Linked DNA regions of Homo sapiens. The protein of the gene in region 2 interacts with the protein of the main gene of each other region in a biochemical or structural test. Each region holds a gene or a part of one and is shown on either strand. Other genes may lie near its edges.

Evidence for each region.
Region 1: of the proteins of CHRDL2 (region 2) and FAM20C, one has a biochemical effect on the other in vitro, tested with the Homo sapiens proteins (one large-scale study listed by IntAct).

Annotation. Positions count from the first base shown.
Region 1 is NC_000007.14:244,305-248,108, reverse strand, and holds part of FAM20C (extracellular serine/threonine protein kinase FAM20C precursor), read right to left. Parts: intron 1,695-3,804; coding exon 1,602-1,694; intron 1-1,601. UniProt on the Homo sapiens protein: Golgi serine/threonine protein kinase that phosphorylates secretory pathway proteins within Ser-x-Glu/pSer motifs and plays a key role in biomineralization of bones and teeth.
Region 2 is NC_000011.10:74,728,335-74,732,628, forward strand, and holds the start of CHRDL2 (chordin-like protein 2 isoform 2 precursor), read right to left. Parts: upstream 3,093-4,294; 5' UTR 2,555-3,092; coding exon 2,473-2,554; intron 1-2,472. UniProt on the Homo sapiens protein: May inhibit BMPs activity by blocking their interaction with their receptors. Has a negative regulator effect on the cartilage formation/regeneration from immature mesenchymal cells, by preventing or reducing the rate of matrix accumulation.

The DNA.
Region 1 (3,804 bases), on a different chromosome or scaffold from region 2:
AGGGACTGGGGCTGGCGATGCCTCACTGATGGGCACACAGCACCAACTGCCTGCATAGCTAAAGCCTGCCCTCATTCCAGGGCTAAATTTAAAACAAAATTAAATTAAAGGAGCCACTTTTAATGGAACTCCTTCTGAACCACACCACAGGCTCCCACTCGCTTAATTAAATGGAGAATGCAGGGCGAGAGCTTTTCTTGCTGACGGAGGACGTGGTGATTGTCCTGTGAGGCGAGGTGACCAGGTGTGGAGGGACGTGGGCCGTCTGCCAGGGCCGACCCGGGACCCAAGGCCCGACCACGCCTCTGCGTGGAGCACCCTCCCCCTCCACCTGTCAGACGGCTCGCCTGGGTGCTGGGCTCTGTGTCCTGTTTTATAAACAGGTGGACCCGAGGGGGGCTGTTTCCTAATGACCCTCCCCGTCTTTCTTTTCATAAAAAGCCCTTTTTGGGTTCAGGCTGTTCTAGATAGCTGAAATGGTGGAAAATCTGGCTTCTGGCGATTTCTATAGTCACCACAGAAGACTTTGATCTTTAAAAAAGCCCTTTAAACTCCAATGTACGCCCGCGTCACTAGGGATCTTGTTAAAATGCAGATTCTGTCCCAGGTCTGGGTGGAGCCCAGGACTCTGCATTCCAACTAGCCCAGGGCAACCCCAATGCTGCCGGCCCTGGGGCCGCACCCCAGGCTGGGACGTGTCAGGGCCGTGCAGGGCAGGCAGGGAGGCTCTGGGGGCTGAGGGTGGCGCCTCCTCCCTCCACTGCACCAGGGCAAGGTCCTTCAATCCACGGGGCCCCTCTGGACCTGGGCCAGGCCCGTTTACTGCCCTTGGAGGGCACTGAACACGGACCCCCCACTTTCCCAGCAGCAGGGCCAAGCTGACCCTCACAAGGGGTTCACTTTCTGCTGGGCTGGGGCGGCCCCTCTGGAGACAGGCGACCGTGGGGCCTCCCAGGCCCCCTCATCACAAACATCGCTTCCCCCTCCTTAGGAAGCCTGCTTTGGTCTCCCAGAGAAGCCTGTGCTCTGTGAGTCTCTGTGTTAAGATTCGCAGCACTTAATACTCCCCCTTCCCTCCCTGCCTCCTTCCCTCTTTCCTTTTCCTCTATTACCGACCGCACAGCAGCTTCTGTGCCTCCCATCTGCCTGAACTGTGGGGGTGCAGGAGGGGCCCATCTGGATTAAGGTGCCCTGAGGGCAGGCGCCCTCTCCCTCGGTGACAGAGGGATGATTAGGAGCGTGGGAACCTGGGCAAATCGCCGCTCACAGAGCCTCAGTTTCTCATCTGTAAAGGGGGATATGAAAGGCTCTCCCTACCGCGTGTTGTGTGGGCTACGATGACACAGAGGGCCCTGCTCAGGGCAGCACTCGGGGTGGGGGGAGAGCAGGCACCGGCGCTGCCTGATGGTGACAAAGGTGACGATGACATACAGGACCCTGCTCAGGGCAGCACTCGGGGTGGGGGGAGAGCAGGCACCGGCGCTGCCTGATGGTGACGAAGGTGACGATGACGTCCTGCTGTGTCCAGTGCAGGACGGCCTCACTCACCGGTGGGTCTGAGCGCACGGGAGCGCGGATGGAGGGAGGAAGGAAGGGCTCACCTGTCCAGGTGGAAGGCAGCAATCTCCGCATTGTGCCTCTCGTAGTCAGAGAAATAAAAAAAGTCAGGGGGTGTCTCCTGCTCCCTCGTTTGTCTGAGAAAACAAGACAGAAACAGAAACGGTTTGTCACTGAGAAAGCCTCCAGGGGCCGGAGGCAGGCGGGACGTGCTGGGTTCCTCATATGAAAAATGCGGTGGAGCTCCAGCCTCCTCAGGGCCACCCTGAGCCTTCGGGACCCTGGGCACCCAGCTGCCGACGGGCCCTCAGAGCAGCGCAGGCACGTGCGACGGAGGCCGGGGGTCCCAGCTCCCCGTGGCCCTGACCCAGCTGCCGACGGGCCCTCAGAGCAGCGCAGGCCCTTGCGACGGAGGCCGGAGGTCCCAGCTCCCCATGGGCCCTTCTCAGGTAAGCTGCTCAAAGGCCTCTCCTGCACTGGCTGGGGGCCCCGGCACGTCCACCCTGGGACCCACAGTCACACCGCAGGGGAGAGGCTGGGCTCGGTGTCCCAGGCCTGGCTCAGCCCCGGTTTGCTGTGTGCACCCTGGCACCGCCCACCCTCTGGTTTCCGAGTCTCCCCCACGGCCTCCAGGACCCCTTGGCTCTGCCGTGGACGCCTCCCACAGTAAGAGCCCAAGAAGGGCAATGTGGGCACCGCCCTGTCCCTCCACCCTGGCCAAGGGACAGGAGGCCACAGGTGGGGCTGTTTATGAAAGGTCAGTGCCATTCTGTAAACACCATAGGGCTCCTGTATCTCAGGCCAATACTCCAGGGGAAGGGGAGCCTAGCCGCAGGGCCCTGTGAGGTGCCGGTCCACGCAAGTGTTTGACCGATGTGGTCATGGTGGAAACGTGGAGGAATTGTCAAGGTCGTGTCTGAGCATAAGTGTGTAAGCGCGTAAGCGTGTAAGCGTGTAAGCATGCTTCCTCCACCAAGGCCGGCCCCTGCCATGCTTCCCCCACCAAGGCCGGCCCCTGCCTCCACTGGAGGGAGAGCCTGTCCCAGGGCGTCCACCCAGGCCAGGCCCAGGGAGGGAACTCAGCCTCCAACCCAGGCTTCCTCCACCAAGGCTGGCCCCTGCCTCCACTGGAAGGAGAGCCCGTCCCAGGATGTCCTCCCATGCCAGGCCCAGGGAGGGAACTCAGCCCCCAATCCAGGAAGAATTTACCAGATTCAAACTCTGGTGACCTTTCCAGGTGCTGGAAACCAGAGCTGGCGGGAATCCCCAGCTCGCACGCCCTGCAGCCCACACCTCCCACTCAGGGCAGACTGTGTTCCGTCTGGGCTCCAACACTCCAGCAATGCAGACTACAGACGCCGCCCCGGTCACTTTCCCAGCCCTCGGCTTCCCCGGCCGGGTCCTTCCTTCCATATACGCAGCGGAGGTCCGCCCAACTCCTGGGAGCATCCTGGCCCTGCCACGGGCCGACATCATCGCCACACGAACAGCGGGGTGGGGCACAGGTCCTGTATGTCATGTCCACGTCCCTTCGGGGGGACCACGTCTGGGTCACAGGCCGTCAATTACACACCAGCCCGTGGCTCCCGTCCTCCCACGCTGTTCTCAGAAAGCTGTGGCCACAATTCTCCGTGTTCCCGGAACGTTTCTTATGGGGGGTTAAAGATGTGTACCACCCACGGCCTTTTTAAGAACTAGTCTCTGCTGCTAGAAACTCTGAGAACAGACCACTTTCCACGATCCCACATAATATTCGCCTTGACAGGGCCCTGGGTAGGCGCAAGGCCAGATGAGGATTCCAGGAGCTACTTAAAAATAAAATGCGGATGGTGGGCTGGCGCCTGAAGGTCACATTTGCTTCATAACCCCACTGGGTCTGTGGCCATTGCTATCTCTGTGCACTTCTGAAACCAGCAGCAAAGGAGGGTTGGGGTGCAGGGCAGGGCAGTGGCAGGTATGGCGGCAAACTGAACATGCTGCCCGCCAGGGTCGCCCTGCAGAGCCGAGGCCCAGACTGGCCGGGATCCTGAGGTTCAAGAGAAAGAATCTAGACCTTGTGGAATCTCCCGGGTTTTAAGCGCTGGCAAATGGATTTCATTTTTCTAAAACACTAAAGGTCAAACCAAATGGTCCGCTGCAGTCAGCCCGCAGTTCCAGGGGTGGTAAATTCTGGAGTGTTGGATATTTTTGAGGTTAAAAAGCCTTCGTTGTTTTCAACTTGGAAGGATTGGCTTTGAGCAAAACTCA
Region 2 (4,294 bases):
TCACTTAAACTAAGATGAGGACCTTTGTAAGAGACCTTCAAATAGCATCTTGGCAAATGACTATAGGATCCTTTCTAGATTCATAGGCTGTCAGCACCAAACAAAATGAGGCTCAGATAAAGAAGTGGTCTGTCCCAACTCACACAGCCAATAAGTGACAAATCAGGGTCCAGGACCCAGGTCTGTTCTGTTTTTTGTTGTTGTTGTTGTTGTTGTTTTTTAAGAGATGAGGTCTCACCATGTTCCCCAGGCTAGCCTTGAACTCCTGAGCTCAAGGGTTCCTCTCCCTCTCAGCCTCCCAAGTAGCTGGTGACTGGAACTACAGGTGTGTACCACTGTGCCTGGCTTTTGTTCTTTTCTTTAATAAATTTGCTGTGTGACCTTGGGCAAGTCACTCTTCTCTTCTGGGCTTCAATTTAACTCTAAGTATAGGTATATTGATGGGTAGAAGCAGATGGTTTTTGATAGTTTCACCAGCTCTAACATCCAGGAATCTTAACATTCTCCAATGAGTGCCAGTCCACCTCACCCTAATGAGTTGGCTCCAAGTCTTTTTCTCACATGTCTGGAGATCTGTATTTACAAGGCTGTAGGGAAGATGGAATACTGGCAGGACCTGCTGAGAGGTACAGAGCTGAAGGCCAGGGAGGCACAGACGAGGGAGATCAGAGTGGATCAAGTCACCGGGGAGAGTTTGCTTGAAGAGGTGTGACCTAGGCAAGGCCATGAAAGGCTGACAAGATATGGGAAGCAAAGAAGCAGGGTGTGGGTAGGATAACAGTCTGGTTCTAGGACATCTTTCCAAGATGCATCAAGGGCAATGATATCTGGAGAAAAAATTGCAGGGACTAAGAACAAGGTGTCAAGTGGATGGGAGGCAGGCATGGAGGGCATCCTGTGCAAAGTCTCTTTTAAGAAATAGGAGGCAGGTGTTAGGAGGAAACCCTCAGGGTTCAAGAAAGCGGAAGAGACATTTATTAAGTACACAGCATTGTGCTGGGCACTTTAATCCGTTACCTCCTTTAATCCTCCCAAGAACCCTGCAAGTTCTGGATTAGTATCTCTCTTAGACAGATTAGGAAATTGAGGCTCAGAGAAGTTATGACTTACAAAAAGTCACACAGCTCTAAGGGGCACGGCCAGGATTTGAATACAACACTGAGCTAATTCCATTACTTGTTCTATGTAATGGAAAGACTTATGTGAGTCTCATGCTGCTGGCAGGCCAGAGACACTCAGCCTGCTCTCATGAGCAGAAACAAGACCGTAACAAAGTCCAGCACTACCAGCTCCAGAATGTCACGTGCAAAAGAAAGGCATAGATGGAGGAGCTGAGCTGGGGAGAGGAAAGAGCACCAGACTAGGAGTTGGGAACGCAGGGTCTTAATCCCAGGCTGTGCCATGTATGTCCTGGAGAAACCCACTGCTTGAATGAAGCTCCTTTCTTCTGATTAAGAGAATGTGGTTTGGTTTTCCATCCTCACAGCATTCTAAGAGATTGGCTGGGCATGGGGAGGGGGGACCACCAGCCTATTGTGGGCGCAGTGAGGAAACTGAGGCTCAGATTGATGATGTAACCTGTTTGATGTTACACTGTATCTATGTGGAAAAGCATAATTGGGAACTGATTTTTTTTGGAAGCTATCAAGCACCAGTCTTGTGCTAGCTGCTTTACCTCTTTTCTCTAATTTAATCCTATCAACTCTCCTAGGATTTTTACTTCCGCTTTATAGATTAGGAAACCCAGGGTCAGAGAGGTGCACTCTGTGACGGCCTCCCAGCAGCTGGCATTCAGCGGGGCTGGGATGGTGAAGACGCTGGTCTATCTCACTGTGCCCTGCCGCCTCCCAGAGTCTCACACTGCAAATTCAGGGTTCCTTCTAGACAATGTGAGGCAGGGAATAAAGCATGGGATCTGGAACTAGAGTTCTGGCTTTGGATGGCTTACCCGCTCTGTAAGTTTTAGCAAGTTCCTCCTTGCTCAGCCTAAGTTTTCTCATCTGTAAAGTGCGAATGATAATACCCACCTCACTGGAGAGTTGCGAGGATCAAAAGAGAGAAAAGAATGGGAAGGTTATCCTAATTACCTCTCATTTCTGTCCAATGGCTCTTTCCAAAGGCAAAAAGCCTTTTCTTCTCCATCACACTCCTTACCTGTAGCCAGACATACCCGACTCCCTCCTAGGAACAGTAAGTCCTCCCCCAACCCAAAACACAGTGCCCTGCCCTCTCCCCCCGCTGCCCTTGGTGCCCCTCCTCAGGTCCCTGGCAGCAGCCCTCTCTCAGTTCTGAGTTGTGCCGAGTTCCTCCGGTCCCCCGGCCCATACTGGTCCTCACGGAGTCTCCACCCCTCCGGCACAGGTGCTGCCTGGACGGCTGTCAGAAGAGCTTGGGGTCCAGGTCCTGGCGCTGTCCCTCACATTCCAGGGGCCGCATCCCTCCTCTGCCCACCCAGCCTCCCGGTCTACTTACGGGCTCGAGCGTGGGAGTCCAGGGGGAACCAGAGCAGCGCGAGTCCCAGCAAGGAGGAGAGGACCCTCACCTCGGGAACCATCCTTTCCCCAGGGTCAGGCCGCTGGTCCGGGAGCGGAGTCGGGAGGAAGGGAGACGAAAAGGACACGGAGGCACAGGGGCCACAGATCAACCCACAGACCCCAGGAGGTCTGCTGCTAGAGCGGGGTCGGAGAAGGGCCAGGAAGCAGCGGTGGGCAGGAAAGGAGGGCAGGAAGGGAGGTCTAAGGTGGGAAGAAGAGAAAGGTGGAAAGAGAACGCGGGGAAAGGAGGGAGAGATGGAGAGACGAAGGAAGGTCCAGCAGAAGGGAGAGGCGATCAAAGAAAGGGGGAAGGTGAGAGGGAGAGGAGGAGAAAGCAGGGAGAGGACCGGCGTCTGCCGAGCGCGCAGCGCCGGGCGAGGCGCGCGGGACCAGCGGGTGTTGCGGGCGCGCGGGCTAGAGGCGGCCGGCGCCCCCTGCTCGGTGGGCTCGGGGTCGGGCCGCGGGGGCCTGGGGCCCGGCGGGGCGGCGGTCCCAGCAGCGGCGGCGGCGCGGCGGCCGCGGAGGGAGGCTGAGCGCGGGCCGGCTGTGCTCGCCAAGGGCTTCAGGCGCCGCGCTCGGGCGCATTTGTACTTTGCCGCGGGAAGCAGGCAGCCCGGCCTGGCGCTGGCCTAGCGCTGGCGCCTCCTCTGGGGCACCGCGGGCTCGGTGGATTGGCCACCCGAGAAACAGGCCCACTTTTTCCCCTCCTCTCTTGTGCGGGTCTCCGGGACGGACGCTCCAGGCGCGGCGCCGAGTGGAGGCGAGGGGGCTGCGGAGGGGGAAGGGGCCACGCGGGCCACGGGGTTTAACCCCTGACTCCCCGCGACGCCAAGAATGCAGGAGGGCAGAGTTGAGGGAGACCTCAGGTGGAACTTTCAGGTGGGGAAGGCTGAGCTGTCGGGGCTGCGGGTACCGGGAAGGCTCAGGGTAAGGCGCTCGGCGGTGCGTGCCCGGAACTCCGCAGATGGATGGAATCAGAACACTGGCGTTCTTAATTCAGTTTGTGGTCTACAGCACGCCACCGGAGAGTCTGTTTTCCCAGCTTTAAAATGGGCATTTTAAGATCTTAAAATATCTCTACTATCTTCCCACGAGTGTTGCTAAGATGAAATAAGGTAATGAACGTCGAAACACTCACCCCACAAAGAGAAGGGGTCCTAATTCCAGGTGCCTACAATACCAGTGGCCCCTGTCCCCACTCCGTCTGCCCATGCGCCATTCTCAGGAAAGTCAGCCCATAGGGATCCTGTGCCTTCCCCTGGAGGTCTTCCTCTGCTCCCCGCTCCCACTCCCGAATCAAGGCAAGATCTCTCCTTTGCCTTTGCAGGTGAGGCCTGCACTTCTCTGGGAGTGATGGTCACCTTCAGTCATCTTTAGGGAGAGCTGATTGTCAAAGAGTTTTCTTTCCCACCAGAAGGGGAGCTCCCTGAGGACAGGGCCCTGACACCCTCCAGCCCTCAAATGGTGCTCCATCTCTTGTGTTGAATGAACACATGCACTAATAGGACACTAAGAAGAGAATAGCCAGCTCTGGCCAGACCAGAAACACACAAGCTCTGAAATCAAAAGGGCAGAGTCACTGTCCTGGCTCCATCCGTAACTTGTTGGGCCACTTTGAGTAAATACATCTATCCTTGCTTTGGACCTCAACTTTCTGCCCAGCTTCTCTTGAAGAGCTAATGGAGACTCCAAAGAGTGCCAGAGGAGTATGAGGTGGGAAGGGATGTTGAGCCATATCCCACTCTGGTAGGGAATCATAT